3 separate regions of the Homo sapiens genome follow, and all the other regions are linked to region 1. The links come from fine-mapping of genetic effects on gene expression. A gene starts in region 1. Each other region holds a variant in brackets. All regions are shown on one strand. Distances are from middle to middle.

Evidence for each region.
Region 2: its variant is fine-mapped to the expression of UBXN11 in whole blood (TOPMed, PIP above 0.99).
Region 3: its variant is fine-mapped to the expression of UBXN11 in whole blood (TOPMed, PIP above 0.99).

Annotation. Positions count from the first base shown.
Region 1 is chr1:26,300,789-26,309,574 of GRCh38, forward strand. It overlaps UBXN11 (UBX domain protein 11), which reads right to left and starts at 5,848. Exons shown (of 15, transcript NM_001389556.1): 1 at 5,804-5,848; 2 at 2,025-2,130; 3 at 906-934; 4 at 138-236. The coding sequence starts at 2,095. RefSeq lists enhancers at 1,756-2,955, 5,639-5,688, 6,089-6,178.
Region 2 is chr1:26,197,096-26,202,095 of GRCh38, forward strand. CATSPER4 (cation channel sperm associated 4) reads left to right here. Exons shown (of 10, transcript NM_198137.2): 4 at 591-688; 5 at 862-982; 6 at 1,191-1,324; 7 at 2,789-2,963; 8 at 3,735-3,946; 9 at 4,259-4,424. Among named protein-coding and RNA genes, the nearest start is that of CATSPER4, 9.0 kb to the left of the region's middle. RefSeq lists enhancers at 877-1,376, 4,360-5,000. The variant A/G (reference allele first, on the strand shown) is at 2,081.
Region 3 is chr1:26,233,650-26,244,533 of GRCh38, forward strand. It overlaps CEP85 (centrosomal protein 85), which reads left to right and starts at 551. Exons shown (of 14, transcript NM_001319944.2): 1 at 551-661; 2 at 6,113-6,189; 3 at 10,517-10,669. The coding sequence starts at 6,135. RefSeq lists enhancers at 750-899, 1,220-1,279, 1,370-1,419. The variant G/A (reference allele first, on the strand shown) is at 6,047.

The sequences.
Region 1 (8,786 bases):
CACAATCAGCCAGGAGTGGAAGCAGCTGCCTCAGACCAAACAGGCGAGAGGAAGGGCCATGCCTCCCTAGGCCTTGCCCCGTCTCTGGGGCCCCCTCCTGCAGCCAGGACCCAGACCCTTCAGGCCTCTGCTCTCACCTTGCCGACTCACAGGGGCACCTATGCCGCCATAGCAGGAAGGGACTGAGATCTTTTCTTCTGAGCCACACCCATCACTCAACATGTCCACCTCATCTTCTGCAGACAGGGATGCCTAGGTCACCGCTCTGGGGCGGAGACCCAGAGGAAACTCAGGCCCTGGGCCCTCGCCAGTGTGACGCGGCCTATGCACTGTGCCCCAGGGAGTTTGAGGAGAGAGAATTCACAAGGCTGGGGAGCAAGGATCCAACCAGAATGGGGCTGTTTTGGAGTTCTTCCAGTCCTGCTCCCAGGGGGACTGGCATGGCCAATGCCAATGCCATGGTGGAGAGTTGGGGGGCAGGGATCCAAAGGCCTGAGCTACAAGAGTCAGGGTGGCAATGTGTGGACAGGCCTCCCGGGAGAAAGGCTGTCACACTGGAGGAGGCTGGAGGGGGAAGGGGGGCTGGGATCCAAACCCCTGGGCTGGGTAATCTCTTGGCCCTCACTTGGTTTCTAGGCACACACTGGCCAGTCCCACAGTGGGTCAAGGGGTTCAAATGTGAGTGGCAACATCTGTGCCAAGGGTATGGGGCCTCCTAATCTGAGAGCTTCCAGGAGGGAAGCCCAGCCCTCAGGGAGGACAGCATGGGAGCTGCACAGAACACGGTGGAGGCCGCTGCTCCAGCTGACAAGGGCCTTTCTCGTGTGATTTCTCTCCATCGGTCCAACTGTAGGAGGTGCAAGCACATGAGAGGCGAAGAGGGCACGAGGGCGGGGCACACTTACCATCTCCATAGATGCGGATTCCTCGCCTCCTGGGAACCCAGGCAGGAAGAAGGAAGAAATATAAGTTAGGGCCCCTGGAATGATACCAGGGATAAGGCTCTGGGCACCGGACTTCAGCCAAAGCTCAAAGAGATGGAAGCAGGGCCTCTAACTCCTGAGGACTTCCAGCCCCAAATCCCAGCCCCAGCCTGGGGTGAGACAAGGGACAGGCTTCGAGGTGTCTGACTTCACCCAGTGGAGAAGGATGGGGAAGGGGTGAAGAGCAGAGTCTTAGGTGGGAAGACTACAAGGCTTGCAAAGCCCATGAGCTCAGCCCCAGCTCTGCTCTGCAAAGGCTGTGAGGCCTGTTGCTTAACCTCTCTGAATCTTCTAGGCCTTAGAATGACTCAAAGTGGGGCCAGGCGCGGTGGCTGGTAATTCCAGCACTTTGGGAGGCCGAGGTGGGCAGATCACGAGGTCAGGAGATCGAGACCATCCTGGGTAACACAGTGAAACCCGTCTCTACTAAAAATACAAAAAATTAGCCAGGTGTTATAGCATGCGCCTGTAGTCCCAGCTACTGAGGCTGAGGCAGGAGAATCGCTTGAACTCAGGAGGCACAGGTTGCAGTGAGCCAAGATCGTGCCACTGCAATCCACAGCCTGGGCGACAGAGCGAGACTTGGTCTTTAAAAAAAAAAAAAAAAAAAAAAAAAAAAAGACTCAAAGTGGTATTCCAGAGAGCAAGAAGGAAGAGAGGTAAAAAATGTTTTGAAAACATGAAAGTGCTAGACAGATGTAAAAGATTCCCTTTACTGAACCCCACACAGGGCCTGGCCCAGGATAGGTCCGTAGACCATCTGTGTTTGCAGAATTAATCAATGAACAGTGAATGAACAGATGGGATGCCAAGCCACTCCTACAGGGCCCATACCTTACTAAAAGCACAACCCAGTTTATGCTCAGATCCAAAGTTGGGTGCCCCAGAAGAAGGTATAAAGAAAAAGACAGTGGTCAGGGAAGGCTATGTGGCCCTTCTTTGTATTCCCCAAGACACTAGGAGTCACTGTCCTCTGGCCATGGAAGGATAGAAGAGGATACAGAGGCGGGGACAGAAAGACCCCTGAGGCTGGCTCCTTACCCAGGATTCATAGGCTCCGAGGGCAGGGGCACTTTTCGGGTCTTGCTAAGGGAGGCCAAAGGTGAGCTCATAGTTCTACTTCTAGAATCCAGCTGTCAGGAACTCCCTAGAGGAATGCAGGAAGTCAGCCCCTGGGGACAGACTCAGGGCTCCAAGCCCAGGGGGTAGCCTGAAGTTTCCACTTCCCTGGCTACTCTTCCTAATGGGAAGCGCTGTCTAGGCAGCAGTACCTTTTGCCTCTTCCACTGTCTCCACAGAGGTTTCTGGAAGTTTCTGTTATCTGCCTGCTCCTCTGGGTATACGGCTTTCTGCTCTGAACTGAGAGACCTTTGGCCTGGTGGTGCTTGGGAAAGTACTGTGAGGGTGGGATGGGATGCAGAAATGAGTCAGAAGCCTGGAACTTTCCCAAACTTAGAGCCTGAAAATGCTACTACCCAGGAGGCTGTCCGTCCATCAGCCAGCTGGGTGACACAAAGCCCAAGTATCTCCTTCCCTCCCACCAGAAACCAGGTGCCACTCCCAACATCTCAGAGCCAGAGAGGCCAACCCACAGGCAGGATTCAATCAAGACACAGGCCGAGGTGGGTGGATCGCCTGAGGTCAGTGGTTCGAGATCAGCTGTCCGACATGGTGAAACCCTGTCTCTACTAAAAACACAAAAATTAGCTGGGCGTGGTGGCGTGCTCCTGTAGTCCCAGCTACTTGGGAGTCTGAGGCACGAGAATCGCTTGAACCCAGGAGGTGGGGAGGATGCAATGAGATGAGACTGCACCATTGCACTCCAACCAACCTGGGCAACAAGAGCGAAACTCCATCTCAAAAAAAAAAAAAAAAAAAAAGACACAGTCCATGTGACACCAAGGTTAAGATGCCAGGTTTTGCCACTCACTGGAGTAACCCACCCTCAGTTTCTTTTAGTATAAAATGGGGGTCGTAATAGTACTGGCACAGGCAGGGTTCTGAGCAGATTCAGAGATAACAGAGAAGGTCTAGCCCAGCGCCAAGCTCAAAGGAAGCACTGAAAAATGTGAGTTGGGGCTGCTGTTGTTTTTGCTGTTGCTGCCACATAGGAAGCACTCGTAAATGTTAGTTTCCTTTCCTTTCCTCTTCCTTCTGGAAAAAGGAGTGCACCTGAAGGACATAATCGAAGGCTACTACTCTATTCAGTAAATGACCTCAGGTGATCCGCCCCCCTCGACCTCCCAAAGTGCTGGGATTACAGGCATGAGCCACTGCACCCAGCCTGGACCAAATTTTTTAGGACAAATCCAAGAAGTTCCACTTTGAAGATGTCTGGTTCTGGCCTCAACCCTACTTCTGAAGTCAGTCAGCAAGGGAATCTATGCTGCCTGGAGGCAGCCTCCAATGCCTTCACTGCAGAGTTTGAGAATCATGCCCTGCCCCTTCCTTGGAAGGAGCCCTCCTCAAGGATCAGGCCCAGAGTTTCTTCACCCCCAGCATCCAGCCTCCCAAATCTGTCCCCACCCTGCCCCAGCCCCTGCCCTGTCTGGGCAGCCTCACGGGTTGTATGGCCAAGGCTCCCTTCATTAGTTCCCATGTGCTACCAGAGAGATCTTAAAACATAAAGCAGGCCGGGAGCGGTGGCTCATGCCTATAATCCCAGCACTTCTCACCCACAGAAAAAAATTCAAAATTCTGGCCAGGCACGGTGGCTTACACCTATAATCCCAACACTTTGGGAGGCCGAGGAGGGTGGATCACCTAAGGTCAGGAGTTCAAGACCAGCCTGACCAACGTGGCAAAACCCCATCTCTACTAAAAATACAAAAATTAGCCGGGCTTGGTGGCAGGCACCTGTAATCCCAGCTACTTGGGAGGCCGAGGCAGAAGAATTGCTTGAACCCAGGAGGCGGAGGTTGCAGTGAGCAGAGATTGCGCCATTGCACTCCAGCCTGGGTGACAGAGCAAGACTCCATCTCAAAAAAAAATTCATAATTCCTTGATATAGGTGACCTGGTCCCTGCTTATGTCTCCTGACCTCATCTCCCATCTTGCCGCCTCCCACACTTGAGCCACCTCAACTTCTAGCAATGCCTCAAATGCATGTGTATCCCCCCTGCCTCAACCTCAATCCCCCCACTCCCAGAACGGTCTCCCCACTCCTACCTGCACCCTTCCCTTGGCCAGCTAACTCTTTTTTTTCCCCTTCAGTTTGTTTTTCACTTATATTTTAGCTTTTTATTTGAAAATTATTATAGATTCACAGGAAATTAGGAAAATAGTACAGAAAGATCCTTTGTATCCTTCACCCAGCTCCCCTCAATACTTTTTTTGTTTTGTTTTTTGAGATGGAGTCTCGCTCTGTCGCCCAGGCTGGAGAGCAATGGCGCAATCTCGGCTCACTGCAACCTCCGCCTCCCAGGTTCAAGCAATTCTCCTGCCTCAGCCTCCCAAAGTGCTAGGATTACCGGCGTGAGCCACCCCACCTGGCCCATCTCTATAATTTTCTTACTTCAAAAAAGTTACACAAATGGAATTATACAGTATGCAACCTTTTTCATAAAACAGCTTTGAGATATAATTCACATATTTCACCTTCTTACAGTGTAATTTTCTTTTTAGTATATTCACAGAGCTGTACTACCATCACAATTTTAGAACATTTTCGTCAGCCTAAACAAACCCTGTACCCTTTGGCAGTCACCCCCAATTTACCCTCCAGCCCCCACCCCTTTTCCAAGGCAGCCTTAGGCAACCACAAATCTACTTTCTGTTCTATAGACTTGCCCACACTGCACATTTCATATAAATGGAATATATACTAAAATATACTAAAAATTGAAATTTACACTTTAAAGGAGTGAAGTATGTAATACGTGAATTATATCTCAATAAAGCTGTCATGGGAAAAAAAAACAAAACTCCTAAACCAAATCCAACATTTTCGTCAAACTCACTTCCTCCCACTTCCCCCTTCTTAATGGGACCCCATCACCCAACCACATTTTTTCTCTCCTTCCTTCCCTCTTACGCCATCTTGCCTCTTACATCAAACCCTGCAGGCTAAACTCTCTCACATATAGCTGCCCCTTTCCATGGCCACCGTCGGCCGTCCTAGTGGGACTCTCACTGCCCATTCTGGGGGCTGTCACATGGCTCCCAACTGACTTCCCTACTTCCAGTGTCACTCCAGTCCAGTCCGACACATTGTCTCCAGGTTAATCTTCTCCCAGATTACAAGGGCCCCTGAAGGCAAAGGCTGCATTTCCCTGTCCGTTTGGGGGGACTCCTGAGGGCAGGGGCATATCTCTTTCTCCTTCAGATTAGGGAGCCCTGAGGACAGTCGCCTAACTCCTTCACTTTGGGGCTTCCAAGGGCAGGACTGTGACTACCCCTCAGGCCAAAAGGTCCTTAAGGCAGAGTTGTCACCCACTTCAGACCTGGCTCTGAGAGCAAATCTCTGCACCATGCCTCTACATCTTTGGAACCAAACTCAGTGCTGTGCTTGACTCACAACATTCTTCTTCACACCTCCTCGGCCTCTCCGTCATCCCCAGAGCCCAGAGCTCTGGCGGGGACACGGTCCGGCCCGCTGCCAGGACTCCCTAATGCCCCCAGGACGCGCTCAGGGAGCGACGTCTATCACGATCTAACCCAGCCCTGGAGGCCGTGTCGCCTCCTTCCGCCTCCACGCGTAGTCATGGTAAGCAGGGTCTTGAACCTCTCCTGTGGGAGCCGCGGAGCTCGCAGGCCCTCGGGGCTCGGGCTCCAGCCTGCGTGGGGACTCCAGGGGCAGAAAGGTCTTAAGCCAGACTCACCACGCAGGGCCGCTAGCCGTCCCGCAGCGCCGCCATCTTGTTGTCACGCGGTTTCCTAGGCGACCAGGACCCGTGCACTTCTCATTGGCTAGTTTGAGGGAGGCCTGAGCAACCTGCAGACAGCGAAGGTGGATACAGTCGCCTGTGCTCGGATTCTATTGGCCCACAGAGTCGGTATTCTTCGCGGGCGAATCCCAGAATGCACCGCTCTGAGAGGGCTCCAGGTCCGGGGCGGGGTGGGGGGGGGGGGTGGTTCGTTCCTACCCTCAGGTGCGGGAGGAAGGAGCCTGGGATTAGGTTAATGAAACTGCTGGCAGCCTCACATTCAGGACCTGAATGTGTGATCCCGACAGTGCCGCTATTTTGCTAAATTGATCTTGGGAGGAATTATCCCTCTTAGCTTATTTCCCCATATGATCAGTATTGTAACACGAAGTACTGTAATACTTCACGGAGGCTGCTTTGAGGATGGATTGCAATGATGCAAGTACTTAATAAATGTTTCCTAAATCTGAGTTTCTGTGACAAATCCTTGACCAGATTGGCGCCCGGAAGGGCGGCCCAAATTCTAGTTCCCTTGTGTTAAGAGTTGGGTAAGACAATTTCCCCTCCCAGAGCCTCATCTGTAAAATTGTGTTGGATTAGACTCAGTCACCAAAACAGCTAAAGGCAGTTAAGACCACGAACTTTGGAATTAGGAGTCCTGGCTCCTTACTGTGTGTTCTTGGGCACTTTATACACCTTAGTTTTTATATCTGTAAAACAGTGATAATACCTACCCCCACTGGGTTGCCGTGAGGATTAAATAAGGTAATGCAAAGTACACGATTTTAAAGGGGAAAGCCGAAACAGAAACACCTGTAGAGAGCACTTTTTCAAAAACGTTTCCTGCTGTTAATCATCATCATCATCTCTTCACCCTTTCAGCTGTGATGGTCTGGGAGTTTATGATTTCTGATCTCAGGCACTCACTTCTTTGTGCCCAGGTTCAAAAGCCCTTTCTCTGCACAACCCAAGAGTGTTTTTCTGTTGCTTTTTTTTTTTTTTTTTTTTAATTTTCCGTTTGACTTTCTAGCCTACCACATTCAGGGAAGGGTAGGCTCTGCTCACTGCAACATCCGCCTCCCAGGCTCAAGCTATCCTCCCATCACAGCCACCAGTGTAGCTGGGACTACAGGTGTGCACAACAACGCCCAGCTAGTTTTTGTATTTTCTTGTAGAGACGGGGTCTTGCCATGTTGCCCAGCCTGGTCTCAAACTCCTGAGCTCAAGCCATCCGCCCATCTCTGCCTCCCAAAGTGGACAGCATTCTTTATATGCAAATTGGAAGCTAAAGAGAGCTACTACTACTGAGTGCCAAGTACCAGATGGTAACATGAAATTTACAGATGAGGGCCGGGCGTGGTGGTTCACGCCTGTAATCCCAGCATTTTGGGAGGCTGAGGCAGGCGGATCATCTGAAGTCGGGAGTTCGAGACCAGCCTGACCAACATGGAGAAACCCCGTCTCTACTAAAAATACAAAATCAGCCGGGCATGATGGCGCATGCCTGTAATCCCAGCTACTCAGGAAGGCTGAGGCAGGAGAATCGCTTGAACCTGGGAGGCGGAGGTTGCGGTGAGCTGAGATCGCACCATTGCACTCCAGCCTGGGCAACAAGAGTGAAACTCTGTCAAAAAAAAAAAAAAGAAAAGAAAAGAAAAAAGAAAAAAACAGATGAGAAAACAAGCTCAGGGTAGTACAGCGGCTTGCATAAGATTATAAAGGCAGGAAGCAGAAGTGGATTCAAACCCAGAACGGTCAGCCTCAAGAGTCCACGCTCTTCCTAGAAACTTTCACTCTGGTAAACAAGGCAGGCATAGATAAGCCAAGGAAGAAGGTGGTACAGACCTACTGCCAAGGGAGGAGTCTGGGCGGAAAGTGTGACTGGAGAGTGGACATAGGAAGAGCTCTCTTGTTGCTGAGCTGCTCCCAGAAAGTTTTCTGAGGTTTTAGGTATATGAAGATGAGAAAGACTGAGATCATGTCGGGGCCAAGTGTTTTTTGAGGTTGGACCCATGGTCAGGGTGAGTAGCAACTTCATACTGTCACCTTGCTCATGGAGATAAGCAAGCGTGGGAAGCAGGAGCTCTGGTCTCATGAGCCCTGCTGTGGTCTGCCCTCTGATTCCTGCCTCAGCAAGAACCAGATCGTGAGTGGCATTTACCCAGGCACCAGGATTTACCCCATCCCTTCTTCCCACCCAGGGCCTGGCTGTAGATTCCGCAGCAGGCAGACACTCAGTAAACATCTATTTCCTGGGAGGAAAATGGGAGCCCTCTAACCTGGCAGGCCAGTCGTTTGATTTTTTTTTTTTTTTTTTTTTTGAGTCTTGCTCTGTCACCAGGCTGGAGTGCAGTGGCACGATCGTGGCTCGCCACAACCTCCACCTCCCAGATTCAAGCGATTCTCCAGCCTCAGCCTCCCAAGTAGCTGGGACTACAGGCACACGCCACCATGCCCAGCTAATTTTTTTGTATTTTTAGTAGAGACGGGGTTTCACGATGTTGGCCAGTGTGGTCTCCGTCTCCTGACCTTGTGATCCGCCCACCTCAGCCTCCCAAAGTGCTGGGATTACAGGCGTGAGCCACTGCGCCCTGTCCCGAGTCAATTGATTTTTTTTTTTTTTGAGACAGAGTCTCACTCTGTCGCCAGGCTGGAGTGCAGTGGTGTGATCTCAGCTCACTGCAATCTCCAACTCTCTGGTTCGAGCAATTCTCCTGCCTCAGCCTCTGAGTAGCTGGGATTACAGGCAAGTGCCACCACCCCCAGCTAATTTTTGTATTTTTAGTAGAGATGGGGTTTCACCATGCTGGCCAGGATGGTCTCTATCTCCTGACCTCATGATCTACCCGCCTCAGCCTCCCAAAGTGCTGGGATTACAGGTGTGAGCCACCGTGCCCTTCTGGTTTGATTTTTTTTAAAAAAATAACATTTATTGGGA
Region 2 (5,000 bases), 110 kb before region 1:
TGGAGTTTCACCATGTTGGCCAGGCTGGTCTCAAACTCCTGACATCGTGATCCACCTGCCTCAGACTCCCAAAGTGCTGGGATTACAGGTGTGAGCCATCGCGCCTGGCCCGCCTGTCTCCCTTTCTTGTGCCGTGAGAGCTATTTCACCTCAGAACTGGCTACTGAAGCAGTATTCCTTATGTTTTTACTAGTATCCATTTTCATTTTATTATTAATTGTAGTGTGTGTCACACAAAGGCAGGAACAGCCAAGTGTTTTCATGTTACCTACCTGTAGGGCAAGGCTGTTTTGAGCATGCTTTAGCCAAGGTGGGCACTCAGCTTAGGGACCAGCCATGTATCTGTAAGGGTCTTTGCTGTGTGTCTCTGAGACTGCATTTGGCTATTGACACATGTATGGGACAGAGAGTACACGTGTGTTTTGTGGCTTGTTTGGGGGGCGGCAGGGTAACAGCAGTGGATGGCAGCTGACTGGCCCTGCTCTGAGAGGGACATTGAGCCCTCATCCCTGGGATGTGGGGAGGGCAGACCTAGGATGCCCCCATGGGCTGGGCCTGACAGACCCCACTGGGGCTGGCCCACTCCCCAGGACGGCTGGAACATCCTCAACTTCATTATCGTCTTTATCTTGCTCTTGCGGTTCTTCATTAATGAAATCAATATTCCCTCCATCAACTACACTCTCAGGTGAGCGGGGAGCTCTGGAGAAATGAGGGGGACCTATCTGGAACCCAGGAATGAGATGGGGGGATAACGACCAGCTGGAGATCAGCTTTGCCTCTCTGGGCAGCTGGTGGGGGTAATGAGGAGGGAAGGGGCTGGGAAGGGCCTAGGGGCACCCCTGACAGGCTCTGCCACAGGGCGCTTCGTCTGGTGCATGTGTGCATGGCGGTGGAGCCCCTCGCCCGGATCATCCGCGTCATCCTGCAGTCGGTGCCTGACATGGCCAATATCATGGTCCTCATCCTCTTCTTCATGCTGGTCAGTGCCTGCCCCCGCCCCCAGCTGTTTCCCTTCCCTGAACAGGGCCCTTGGGTCATTGCAAATAGAGGGGTGTCTGGAAAAGCAGAGAGGCCTGTGGGCCTGAATCCCTGTGATTTCCTCAGCAGCGTTCATTTACATGACATTTGTGTGTCCTATTTCCAGGCCCTTTGGTGAAGTCGGGGTGGGGCTCTTTTCTCTCTGACAGGTTTTTTCCGTGTTTGGAGTAACACTCTTTGGTGCATTCGTGCCCAAGCATTTCCAGAACATACAGGTTGCGCTGTACACCCTCTTCATCTGCATCACCCAGGACGGCTGGGTGGACATCTACAGTGACTTCCAGTGAGTGCCAGTGGGACTTCCAGCCTCATCCCACCTATGGGGCAGGGTAGCCGGTGGAGCTCCAGGCTGAGAGTGGGAGCTCCAGGGATTGGGATGAGGATGGCCCAGTAGAAGTGGGGGTTCCCAGGTCTTTAAACAGAGGAAAAGGAAATACCTGGACTTGTGATACCTGAAGCCTTGTCACCCTTGAATCTCCATATATTCAGAGTCCCATTCCCACCCTGTAATGGGGACCTCTCCCATCATGCTAACCAGCTGGGTAGTTGGCCTTGGATAAGGCAGCAGGTCTGCAGTTATGCCTCAGGTTACAGAGCAACCTCCCAGCCCACCTTGGAGCCCACCAAACTGCCTGAACTCCTGGGAACTTCAGGTCTCATTTCATTCATTCTTAAACCCACTGCCCACATTCATTTTTGTGTTCTGTTCTTTACCTCTTTTCTATTAAGTCTAAGCCCTATTTCTTTCCAGTTTATTCCAGAAAGTGGGACCCCTTAACTGATTTCTTTTTATCTTCTACATGTGAGTATAGAAGCCCAGTAGATAAAGGGCTTCTACAGTCATTCTCCATTATGGCATAGGTAGTGGATAAAAATCAGGCTGGCCGGGGCCGGGCGCGGTGGCTCACGCCTGTAATCCCAGCACCTTGGGAGGCCGAGGTGGGCAGCTCACGAGGTCAGATCAAGGCTATCCTGGCTAACACAGTGAAACCCCATCTCTACTAAAAATACAAAAACAAAGCCCAGTGCAGTGGCTCAC[A/G]CCTGTAATCCCAGCACTTTGGGAGGCTGAGGCAGGTGGATCACAAGGTCAGGAGTTCAAGACCAGCCTGGCCAAAAAGGTGAAACCCCGTCTCTACTAAATATACAAAAATTAGCCGGACGGTGGGGCGCCTGTAATCCCAGCTACTCAGGAGGCTAAGGCAGGAGAATCGCTTGAACCTGGGAGGCGGAGGTTGCGGTGAACCCATATCACGCCACTGCACTCCAGCTTAGGTGACAGAGTGAGACTCTGTCTCAAAAAAAAAAAAAAAAAATTAGCCAGGCGTGGTGGCAAGCACCTGTAGTCTCAGCTACTTGGGAGGCTGAGGCGGGAGAACGACATGAACCCAGGAGGTGGAGCTTGCAGTGAGCCGAGATCACGCCACTTCACTCCAGTCTGGGCAACACAGCGAGACTCCATCTCAAAAAAAAAAAAAGGAGTGTAGCTAATAGATTAAACTTAATAGTGTTGATGTGCACGTCCCCACCTTGCAGGGTTGGTTAGAGAATCAGCTCACTGTCTGGCAGCACAGTAGGTGCTTAGTAGAGAGCAGCTATTGAGACAGGAGTAGGGAATGGGATCTGCACAACAGCAGTGACACAGGCAGAAGTTCTAGTAGGCCTTGGGATGATTTTCCCATTTCAATGACAAGGAAACTCAGGCTTGAAGGGCCAGGGAAATGATGGGGCCCCTGCCTGCCATCTGCAGGACAGAGAAGAGGGAATATGCAATGGAGATTGGGGGTGCCATCTACTTTACCATCTTCATCACCATCGGTGCCTTCATTGGCATCAACCTGTTCGTCATCGTGGTGACCACCAACCTGGAGCAAATGATGAAGGCAGGAGAGCAGGGACAACAGCAACGAATAACCTTTAGTGAGGTGCGTGGGATGGGGAGGGCAGAAGGGAGGAAAAGGAGTGTGTATGAGAGCGGACTTGAACATATGTGCATGTATGTGTGTGCTTGCATAATCAAGGGCCTGGAGAAAGCCAAGTTGGAGGCCTGGAGGCAGCAGCCCCCCATCTTGAGTGCCCACCCACCAACTGGGGCTTCTGAGGGGTGTGGATTTTCTAGATGTTAGATTTCTATGGCAACTCAAAACTGAGCAGCTGGGTGACCTTGGGGCATTTACCCACTCTAAGCCTCAATTTTTTTCTTTTGTAAAATGGGAATAATAATAGTACTTAACTCATAGGGTTATTTTATGAGGGTTAATGGGTAAATGAACAGTGCTTGGCGCATAGTAAGCACTCAATAAATGTTAGCTACGGTATTATTCATTCAGGGCAGTACTTCCATAAGGTTGGGGAAAGGGGTGGAGTACTTCTAAAAGAGTGGAGTGCTGGAGGCCTGGGCTTGAGGGTAGGCAGGGCTTTATAAATTTGCTGGGTAGGGTTTATCAGGGTTGAAATCTGGGGCAGGGCTAAATTTTGAAATGGGGTGAGAATTTTTAAAGAGGTGGGGGGAGGTCATGTGCATTTAAAGTTGGGTTCCCCCAGCAAGGCAGTGAGGCTAAGATTGGTGAGAGCTGAAATGAGGGCCTTAGAACCCTGGGGTCCTAAGAGACTCATCCTGAAGCCAAGCAGGAAAAGGGTGCCGGGGGCGTGCCTGCCTGAGCTGTCCCGACCCCTCTCTATCCCCCGCTTCCCAGACAGGCGCAGAGGAAGAGGAGGAGAATGACCAGCTGCCACTGGTGCATTGTGTGGTCGCCCGCTCGGAGAAATCTGGTCTCCTCCAGGAACCCCTTGCGGGAGGCCCCCTGTCGAACCTCTCAGAAAACACGTGTGACAACTTTTGCTTGGTGCTTGAGGCAATACAGGAGAACCTGAGGCAGTACAAGGAGATCCGAGATGAACTCAACATGTAGGGGAGGGTACTGGGGCTGCCCCCAAGTCATGTGAGTCAAGGCTGGGCGGAGCGTCAGAGTCTTCTGGCCTCACGCCCTCACCATTTATAAGGCAGAGCCTGGGCCCCACAGAGGTCCCCCACCCTATTGGTGGAGGAACTGGAATCCAGACTCCAGGTTCCTTCCATCTCACACAAGGGCACAGCTCGGCCTGGGTCTCTGTCAGGGCTGCGTGGGAGAGCGAAGCGGGGGTGACGCCAGGGAAGAGGTGGGAGGGCTGCTTCCCTCCCCTGAGGCCTTCTGAAAGGCACTCACTGCTCCACCCCCAGGATTGTGGAGGAGGTGCGCGCAATCCGCTTCAACCAGGAGCAGGAGTCAGAGGTGTTGAACAGGCGCTCGTCGACGAGCGGGTCGTTGGAGACTACGTCATCCAAGGACATCCGCCAGATGTCTCAACAGCAAGACTTGCTCAGTGCGCTCGTTAGCATGGAAAAGGTGTGCCTTCCTTCTCCTACCCAATGGGTACTCGCCCTGACACTCTGCTCAGCCCAGCCCAGCCGGGCCTCTGGACCATTTGTCAAAGTTTCTGTCTATTCCAAGATCTGGTCCCCCTCACCACCACCACCCCTCCTTTTTTTTCTTTTTTCTTTTTCTTTCTTTCTTTCCTTTTTTTTTTTTTTTTTGAGACGGAGTCTTACTCCATCGCCCAGGCTGGAGTGCAGTGGCGCGATCTCGGCTCGCTGCCACCTCTGCGGCCTGGGTTCAAGCGATTCTCCTGCTTCAGCCTCCCAAGTAGCTGGGATTACAGGTGCTTGTCACTGCACCTGGCTAATTTTTGTAGTTTTAGTAGAGATGGGGGTTTCACCATCTTGGCCAGGCTGGTCTTGAACTCCTGACCTCGTGATCCACCCTCCTTGGCCTCCCAAAGTGCTGGGATTACAGGCGTGAGCCACTGCACCTGGCTGTCTGCCTCTTAAACTTCCATCTGCCTCAGCTGTCACTGCCTATCTGGTTAGGTTCTGCACTTTCCTTCTCGGAAAGGCTCCACCCTTCCTGCCAGTTTCATCTCTA
Region 3 (10,884 bases), 66 kb before region 1:
GGCAGGACTGATCCTTTACCCTTCAACCTGAACCTTGGTCACAGGCTGACCACTGCGTCCAACCCAGACCAAGCCTTGACCCTGACTAGTCAGTGACCCAGGCCACACCCTAACTCCTGGTCACAACCTGAACCCCTGCTTCAGGTGTGAGAACTGATAGACCGGCGTTGGAATGGAAGGAGGGTGAGGCAAGCTGAGTGGGATTCTCGTGTCCCCAGCCCCGCCCGCGGGCCGCCAGCTTCCCAACCTGCACAGGCCCAGCAGGGCCCCTCCAGGTCTAGGTGAGCAGAGCTCCACCTACAGGTAAAACGCGGCAAGGGGCAGAGAAGGAGCCAAGTGGCGACGTGGTCATGCGCAGAAAGATCCGTCCGGCTCTCTGAGCAGAGGGTAGCGTGTGGGGGCGGGATACCGACGCGGCTCGGCTGCCGATTGGTCAGAAGAGGATAGAAAGGGGCGGGAAGCCGGCGCGGCTCGACTCCCGATTGGCCAGAGGCGGCAGAACGGGGTGGGGCCAAACGACGCGCGTTCTGTGGCGCGCGGCCTGGCGGGCGTGCAACGGCCGTTAGAGGAGCTGAGGGAGGGAACCACCGCTCACCGCAGACGTGGTGGCTGCAGTCAGTCTTCCCGAGTGAGGGATTTCGCCGCCCGCTTTCAGGCCCGTGTAAGTTTTCCTCCTTCGGGAGCCTCAGTCCTAGTGGCCGACCTTGCCTCTCCTCCCATAGCTCCGGCGAAGCCTCAGACGCTCGCGACCTGCCACCGTGAGGGGCCGGGGAGAGCGAAGCGCATGCGCCTCGGCTCCGAAGCCAGTGCCCCGGCATACGCCCTCTCGCGTCCCATTCCCCTCGCTTCCCCCGTTGCCTTGCTTTGCCGTCCGTGGTTCACCCCACGGCAGTCACTTTACCTGCGTGCCAGGCCCTGTGCCGATAGCCAGGGACACAGCGAGCGGCGCATTCCTTGCCCTTGCGGAGCGCACAGCCCTGGGAGTCGACGTTAAGCGGGGTAATCCCTCGGCGCGCAGTGAGGGTAGAGTGGAGAAATCTTACAAAGAGCGCAAAACAGAAGGCGCGGATCTAGTCGGAGAGGTCAGGGAGCCCTCCCCGAGGAGGAGAAGTTTGAGCCGAGATTGGAAGGCTGTGTAGAGAATTAAGGTTGTGGGACGGAAAGCACTTGGCGGGGCCTTACCCCGGTACTTCTCGGCCGGGGCGATTTTGCTTCCCTGGGGACATTGGTCGATGTCTGGAAACACTTTTGATAGTCACAGCTCCAGGGCTTGCTACTGGCATCTAGTGCGAAGAAGCCAGGGATGCTGTTACACAGCCTACTGTGTGTAGGACGCCCCCAACAACAAAGAAAAATCCCCCAAAATGTCAGTAGGGCGGAAGGTGAGGAAGCTTCCTTCAGCGAGAAGGAGCTGGTGCTTTGGTTGAACTGAAAGTTAGTGTGTTCAGGTTTATTTGTTCAACAGTATATTCAACGCTTACTTCACCTCAGTTAATGAGAGCGATCCTTTACACCAGTACATTCCCAACACGTGGCTCAGAGCCAGGCGCATAGTAGGCACGCAGTAAATTTCGGTTGATGAATTGAACACTGGGATAAGTAGGGGGCGGTGGTGATACAAGGACGATGAAGCTAGCCAGGCCTCATTTATTTGCCCTCAAACCTTGTCTGCTTTATAGTGATCTGGTGGTTTTGTATGTCTCACGACTTTTCTTTGTAAAGGCAACTTCTTGTCAAGGATTTGGCTTCTCTTTCACAAGGTTTAATGAATGATCAAGGCGGTGAAAATAGTGTAATGGTGTGAGATCCTTCGTGTGTCTGTGTCAGCTGTCTGTGTATCCCTTCAAATCCTCTCTTGTCTTGATGTGGTTCTCTTAACAGCTGCCAAGCATGATGTTCCACACTTAGATTGTAATTCTTTTTTTTTTTTTTTTTTTTGTGAGACGGAGTTTTGCTCTTGTTGCCCAGGCTGGAGTGCCGTGGCGCGATGTCGGCTCACCGCAACCTCCGCCTCCCAGGTTCAAGCGATTCTCCTGCCTCAGCCTCCCGAGTAGCTGGGATTACAGGCATGCGCCACCATGCACGGATAATTTTGTATTTTTAGTAGAGACGGCGTTTCTCCATGTTGGTCAGGCTGGTCTCAAACTCCCGACCTCAGGTGATCCGCCCGCCTCGGCCTCCCAAAATGCTGGGATTACAGGCGTGAGCCACCACGCCCGGCCACACTTAGATTGTAATTCTTATAGGGGAAAAATACTTACGGCAGTCAAAATCTAATTCTTGGGTAGCAACTTGAGAAATAAAGCCTAGGTGATGACCAAGGACAAAGTGAAGAAATTTTATGAGCTTTTACTGCTCATATAATTGAGGCTTGCAGCTCTAGCTGTCTGAGGCAGAAACTCCAACTTGTGGTGCCATGCTTGATCTCTTTTTTTGTGTTTTGTCACATGTAGAATGCTGACTAGACTACTGTAGCGTTAGAGTACAGTCCTGGCTTTGAAGCCTCTTCCTAGCCATATGACCTTCACTACTGTAAACCTTTATTTTCTCATCCATAAAATGAGGATAATAGTAACTGCCTCATAGGGTTGATGTGAACATGAAACATGAGACATGATACTTAAAAAGTGTTGAGCACAGTGTTTGATAGGTAGTAAGTGCAGAATGCATGTTAAATTTGTTGAATGAGTGACTGTTTCTGTAGTTTAAAGGGCTTTGAAGATGGAAACCAATCCTGTTGGGTGCTTTTTTTTTTTTTCCCCTCTGTCTGCCTCCATTCACTCCCTTTCTAAGCTTTATAACTGGTGTGTTACTTCTTGTACATTCACTTCTCTCATTTTTATCCCAGGAAATTTCTGTCTCCTTCAGTTGTCCCAAAAATTTCCACCAGTAGCTCATCTAATTCTTAAGTCAAGAATGATTTATTTTGTATTGTTTTACTCCTTACGGGGTTTCTTTCTTTCTGTTTTTCTTTTTTGAGATATTTGTTGTCAATGAGGGTCAGACTCTGAAATATTTGAAGGGATTTATTCTGAGCCAAATATGGGTGACCAGTGGCCCCTGACACAGCCCTCAGGTGATCCTGATAACGTGTGCCCTGGTTTTAAACATTTTAGGTAGACATGAGACATCAGTCAAATACATGTAAGATTTACATTGATCTGGAAGGGTAAGACAACTCTTAGTGGGTGGGGGCTTCCAGGTCATAGGTAGATTTCAAAATTTTCTGATTGGCAGTTGGTTGAAAGTTGTTATCAATAGAAAGGAATGTCTGGGTTAAGGTATCCTGGGGATCAACATTTTATTGTACAGATGAAGCCTCCAAATAGTAGGCTTTAGAGAGAATAGATTATAAATGTTTCTTACAGACATCTGTGTTAATGTTAATGCTTTTCCTAAATTCCAGAAGGGAGGAGGGTATAATGAGGGGTGTAGGACTCCACCACCACTACCACCATCATGGCCTTAACAGGTTTTTCAGCTTAACTTTGGAATGCCATTGGCCAAGGGGAGGGATCCATTCAGGTGGTTGGGGATGTCTTAGAATTTTTTTTTTGGCTTATATCACATAACATAAAATTTAATTTTATGTGTGTGCAATTCAGAGGTTTTTAATATATTGGCAAGGTTGTGCAGTCAGTCACCACTATCTAATCTCAGAACATTTTGATCACCCTGAAAAGAAACCCGGTATCCATTAGCAGTCCCTTCCTATTCTCCTACCCTCCCTCCTCTCAGTCCTTTGCAATCACTAATCTGTGTCTCTATGGATTTGCCTATTCTGACATTTCATATAAATAGGATCAAGCCTTTTGTTTGGCTTCTTTGACTTTGCATGTCTTCAGTGTTCATCCATGTTGTCACATGTATCAGTACTTCCTTTTATTGCTGAATAATACTCTGTTTTTTGGATATACCACATTTTATGTATCCATTCATTAGCTCATGGACGTTTGTGTTGTTTCCACTTTTTGGCTATTGTAAATAATGCTGCTACGAACATTCTTATTGAAGCTTTTGTGTAAACCTGTGTTTTCATTTCTCTTGGGTGTATACTTCAGTGTGGAATTGCTGAGTCATAGGGTAACTCGGAGTTCTCCTTCTGTCACCGTATTTTCAACTTGTCTGAATTTAGAAACACCTTAGAATCCAGTGCGCCTACCATTTTGTTATCCTTTAAAGAAAGGAGTGAAGAAAAGGATTTTGATATTGACAAGAAAGGAAATCACTAGTAAGGAGGTAATCTAATCATTCTATGTCATCATTTAACTCACTGAATCATACTTGCCATAAACTAAAGCTTTTATTACTGAACAAAGCTTCCCTCACCCAGTATGTGAAGAACTGGAATTGTGGAGGATGATACCCTTTCTATTGTAGATGCAGTGAATTAATAAGGGTTTGGGTTGTTATGTACTTTAGTGACCTCTATAGTATTCTCTTAGTAACAAGAGAATACTATAGAGGTCACTAAAGTACATTAGAGAAATAGTACCATATAGTCTTTTTTCTCCAGAGTGATAGAATTATGTTCTGTGAATTGTCCCAAACTCTTTTTTTTTTTTTTTTGAGACGGAGTCTTGCTCTGTCGCCCAGGCTGGAGTGCAATGGCGCGATCTTGGCTCACTGCAGCCTCCGCCTCCATGGTCCAAGCGATTCTCCTGCCTCAGCCTCCCAAGTAGCTGGGATTACAGGCGCCTGCCACCATGCCTGGCTAATTTTTGTATTTTTAGTAGAGACGGGGTTTCACCATGTTGGCTGGTCTCGAACTCCTGACCTCAGGTGATCCGCCTGCCTCGGCCTCCCAAAGTGCTGGGATTACAGGCGTGAGCCACTGAGCCCGGCCGAATTGTCCCAAACTCTTTTGGGGCTTTTATAAATTTAGAGTTTCTGAGTTGATACTCCTTGATCTTCCATGGGCTGTACAGTGCTACTTTTGTTGATGTAAATTGCCAAGTAATAACAGCACTTAGTATGTGTCAGGAACTGTTGTAAGTTAATTATAAGTGAATTAACATGAATTAGGTTGTGTTGTTATCCTCATTTTTATATGAAGAAAATGAGGAACAGAGATACTAAGAAATTTGCCCAAGGTTACACAGCTAATAAATTGATAACTTAATGTTTAGTGGGTTCAAGTGTATTTGTTTAGACTTCAAATCCACTTCTGCTGAATTCTCAGCACCTACCCCTAGTGTACTGTAAATATAAATATTTTAAGGAGTGAGAACATGGGACGAGAACTTCACGTTCCTAGCTCAGGATTGGAGTTCTACTTATGAGCAAGAATTCTTTCCCATCTTTTTACATCGTATGACTGACTTTAATTACTGGAAGAATTGAGGAATTTGTTTTGTGTTAATCATAATTGATGCTGTAATACTTCACTGTTGGTTTAGTTCTTTAGTTCTTTATCCACCTCGTCCTGTCATCAGGTCCCCATGGCTAAGAAGATTCATGGTAAAGTTTGTTAATTAAAAGTAATATTTTTAAATTTTATAAAAATCAGAAGGGTTCTAGGACCGTATGGAATCTGTATTGGTAATCTCTGGTTCTAGGTTTTCTATACTGGATTTGGGAAGAGAAGTAGAGTGGAGTATTGGGATTTACTTTGTCTTAAAAATATCCTTAGAAGTAAAACATGTAAAAACATATTTACTCCTAAATATCCTTAGGAATATAACATTTAGAATACTGGAATATTCTTTTTTATTTTTTTTGAGATGGAGTCTTGCTCAGTTGCCCAGGCTGGAGTGCAGTGGTGTGATCTTGGCTCACTGAAACCTCTGCCTCCCGGGTTCAAGCAATCCTTGTGCCTCAGCCTCCCAAGTAGCTGGGACTACAGATGTGTGCCACCATGCCCGGCCAATTTTTGTGTTTTTAGTAGAAATGGGGTTTCCCCATGTTGGTCAGGCTGGTCTCGAACTCCTGACCTCAGTTGATCTGCCCGCCTTGGCCTCCCAAAGTGCTGGGATTACAGGTGTGAGCCACTGTGCCTGGCCAAATACTTGAATATTCTATATGGTTTTGACAGTTTCAGTTGAAT[G/A]GGAACTGAGTTGCGGGGAATTAAAGATACTTCAGAGAACTGACTGGTTATTCCTTCATTCTACAGTTGGCTTAAATAACTGTGATTGATGGCCATGCAGGAGAAATATCCAACTGAGGGGATCTCTCACGTCACTTCACCGAGTGAGTAGTCAGAAGTTTTCTGGGTTAAATTCTGACCTTTGTTCTGTTTTTTCATATTCCTTAAGGTAAATATTGAACAAACAAGCATTCACTGAAATGCTGGTGCTAAAAGAATAAAAATAACATGGGGCTTCATTGAATATAAAAACAGGTCTCTGAGGGAACAAGTATTTATCTCTTGTGCTATGTGGCTTTCAACAGGACCACGTGGTTGGGAGAGGACGACATATAAAGGATTGGAACAGAATGACTTTGGAACATAGTTCCATTTGAAATCAGAAAAACACAGCATAAATTACTGTGTTCTATGTTGTCTTTGTCCTCTGGGTGGGTCAGTCATCTGCTAGCCCACAAAAATAGGAATTCTGCTTGGATGCCAACAGATTCCGTTGCATTGTTACTAGAAACTCAGGAATTTATCTTCAGAATGGATTAACAAGATTTTGAAACTTCAGTAGATATATTAAATATATACAGTCCTTAAGTGTCCATGGCGGACTGGTTCCAAGACCTCCTGCAGATAGCAAAATCCACAGATACTCAAGTCCCTGATATAAAATGGTGTGGTATTTGCATATAACCTGTGTATATCCTAATGTTTACCTTAAATCGTCTCTAGATTACTTGTAATACCCAATGCAATGTAAATGCTATGTAAATAGTTATACTGTATTGTTTGGGGAATAAGAAGAAAAACAAGTCTTATGCACATTCAGTAAGATACCATTAAAAAAAAAAATTGGTTGAATTCACAAACGTAGAAACCACGGATATGGCCAGGCGCTGTGGCTCATGCCTGTAATCCCAGCACTTTGGGAGCCCAAGGCGGGTGGATCACCTGAGGTCAGGAGTTTGAGACCAGCCTGGCCAACATGGTAAAACTCCATGTCTACTAAAAATACAAAAATTAGCCGGGTGCAGTGGCATGTGCCTATAATAATCCCAGCTACTTGGGAGGCTGAGGCAGGAGAATCACTTGAACACGGGAAGCAGAGGTTGAGGTGAGCTGAGATGACGCCACTGCACTCCAGCCTGGGCAACAGAGTGAGACTGTGTCTCAAAAAAAAAAAGGGGAAAAAAAAGAAACCATGGATATGGAGAGCTGACTGTATATTAAACACATAAATATATGTATGCACTGTGCAGGCATATTAAGTAGATAATATATATTTCAAATAAGTAATATTTTAGAAAAATGACTTGTTGAATTCTGGGGTATTGGTAAAGAAGAGGGCACGTTTAATTCAACTCAGGGTATGTTTTATTTAACTTTAAAATCTCACAGTGCCTTACTCAGCGTAGATATTTGGTAAATGTTTGGTGTATTCTCTTAGGCATGCTGCCTTGCATAGAGTAGGCACCATTATAAGCTTTGGTTGAATCAATTCAAGATTCATTCAGCAGAATTTTTTTTTTTTTTTTGAAATGGAGTCTCGCTCTGTCACCCAGGCTAGAGTGCAGTGGCGTGATCTCGGCTCACTACAAGCTCCGCTTCCCGGGTTCATGCCATTCTCCTGCCTCAGCCTCCCAAGTAGCTGGGACTACAGGTGCCCGCCACCATGCCCAGCTAATTTTTTTGCATTTTTTAATAGAGACGGGGTTTCACCATGTTAGCCAGGATGGTCTCAATCTCCTGACCTTGTGATCTGCCCGCCTGGGCCTCGCAAAGTGCTGGGATTACAGGCGTGAGCCACTGCACCCGGCCTCAGGAAATATTTTTTAAACATCTGCTATGTGCTGCACATTCTCTTAGGTTTGTACAGTTTCTATGACAATTATGTATATAATGCAAGTTTTTGGAACAATGCCTTTCCTATGGCTTTTTTCTCTCTTCAATAGTATCTCATTCAGATTAATAATGGTCTTAATAATTGATAAGGATGCTACTGATAGGACATGCACTATAACACAAAAAATTTCAGCTTTTCTTTTTTTTTTTTGGAGACGGAGTCTTGTTCTGTGGCCCAGGCTGGAGTGCAGTGGCACAATCTCAGCTCACTGCAACTTCTGTCTCCTGGGTTTAAGTGATTCTTGTGCCTCAGCCTCCCAAGTAGCTGGGATTACAGGCATGCACCACCACACCTGGCTAATTTTTTTGTATTTTTAGTAGAGACGGGTTTCGCCATATGCCCAGGCTGGTCTCCAACTCCTGAGCTCAGGTAATCTGCCCACCCCCGCCTCCCAAAGTGCTAGGATTACAGGCATGAGCCACTGCACCCGGCCAACTTCAGCATTTAAACTTCAATTTTGAAATAAGTGTAAACCTCTATAAATATACCAAAATATATTTTTAACAAATAACTCTTTGGAATTAGGGTATGGAGTAGGTGGATGGAAAAATGGTAGCGATGAAGAGTGGAAGATTAGTAGTAGTAACAGGGAAGCGGTTTCCAGTAGGAAGTCAGGAAGATGGTAATAGAGGCCCTCAATCTTAACTGTTTCAAAAGGCCTGGCAAATTTTACACTGACTAGAGAGAAAAAGCTGTGTAGACTCACCAGAAGGTGGGATTTCTTTGCTTTGGGCTAGAATTACACCAACTTAGTATAGTAGCATTGGCTAATCTCATGCCGCTCAGAAACTCGGATTGTTGCCTGTGTCTTCTATAACAATTACAGATTACTGAGTGTATAAAGATTCTTTCAAATCAGGCAGTCACTGTGATCCAAAGAATAGAAGAAGTATTTGGGGAAAGTCAGGTTGCCTTCAGTAGAAAGCCAAAGTAAGGGTAGCAAAAAATGAGCAAAAGTAGAAGAAAATAGATTAAAAAGATGAGAGAAGCACTAAACTTGGAAGAAAGGAATAAAGTAATTTGTGTCCAAATTACTTTGGGCGTAATCATTTAGTGGGAGCAATCATTTGCCTCCCACTAGATCAGCGAGTCTGTAGAACCGTATTTTCTGAAATCGGCTTTCACACTTTAAGTTAAATGGAGGATAAGTAGCTGCCATTAGTTTTTTTGTTTGTTTGTTTATTTGTTTACATGGATCACCAGATACACCTTAGGAAAATTATAGTGGTTTTTAGAAAATAAATTTAAGTCTTTGCTAGAATGTTAGTGAATCAAGTATTTATTGAACACTTCCTACCTACCTCCCCCCAAACAGCATATTTTAAATCAAATAAATCTCATCAGTCTTTTTGTCTTAACCTTCTCAGCAGTTTTAGTGATATCTTCACGTTGCTCTCAAGATAAAGCCCTAGGCTCTTCAGATTGACTTTCAAAACTCACCTTGATCTCAATAGGATTCACCTATTGAGGGTACCCTGGTTCAGTGAAGCAGTGATTTTCTTTTTTTTTTTTTTTTTTTCTGAGATGGGGTTTCGCTCTTGTTGCCTAGGCTGGAGTGCAGTGGCGCAATCTTTGCTCACTGCAACCTCGAAGCAATGATTTTCAACTGGGGACTGGACTGCTTGTTGCCCTAGGAATCATTTGGAACTATATGGTTATTTTCTGGTTTCACAGTGATGGTGGTCTTGGTTGAGGGTTGCTGCTGGCATTCAGTGAGTGGGAACCAGGGATGCTAAACCATTCTGTAATGTATAGACTACACATTGAAGAATGGTCATCCCCAGAATGCCAAAAGCACCATTGAGAAACTGTAAGAAAGAGGAAAGAATGTGGGTTTTGGAATCAGAAAGAACTGGATTCAAATATCAGCCCTCCCCTCTGTAAAATAGGGGTGGTAATACTTTTCAGTAAGTAGGTAGGCAAGATTATGTTTGTAAGGTCCTGTGGCTTTACAGGTTTCAATAAATGGCCACTGCTATTAAATATGATTGTTTTCTGTTCCAGTACTCCTGGATTCTTCATGGGTCTTATTAACATCTTTGAATATTCTCACTTCTCATACTATTTCCACTTAAAATTAACTAGCTCAGGCTTGGCGCAGTGGCTCACACCTGTAATCCCAGCACTTTGGGAGGCCAAGGCGGGTGGATTATGAGATCAGGAGTTCAAGACCAGCCTGGCCAAGATGGTGAAACCGCGTCTCTACTAAAAATATAAAAATTAACTGGGCGTGGTGGTGGGCGCCTGTAATCCCAGCTACTCGGGAGGCTAAGGCAGAGAATTGCTTGAACCCAGGAGGTGGAGGCTGCAGTGAGCTGCGCGCCACTGCACTCAAGCCTGGGTGACAGAGCAGACTCCGTCTCAAAAAAAAAAAAAAAAAAAAAAAAAACTAGATCGGAGCAGCTGAAATAGGCACAGGAGAGAGAAAGGGGTGGGTTGCTGCTATTCTCTTAGGTTTATGTGATTTTTTAAAAAAAGATCTGATGGGGTTACATCAGCTGGTTCACAGTAAAGGTGGGAAATGCCTCTTGTTTCAGGTTCCGATGTGATTCAGAAGGGCAGTTCCCTGGGGACTGAATGGCAGACCCCAGTTATCTCGGAGCCCTTTCGGAGCCGCTTCAGCCGCTGTTCAAGTGTAGCCGACAGTGGGGACACAGCCATTGGTACATCATGCTCAGATATTGCGGAGGGTAAGTTTGTATTAATGATTTGATTACCAATATGTGTTCTCATTTTCAGATTGCATTTTGGGTATATTGGCATTTCCAGATTGTGTTATTTCCAGAATGTTCATAACGTCATTCCATTTCATTCAAGGAGTCTCTCATTCTTCTTACCCTGTGCTTCTCACATCTGGTCCCTTTATCTAAATTTCTACTTTTTATCTTATCTGAAACAACTTTGT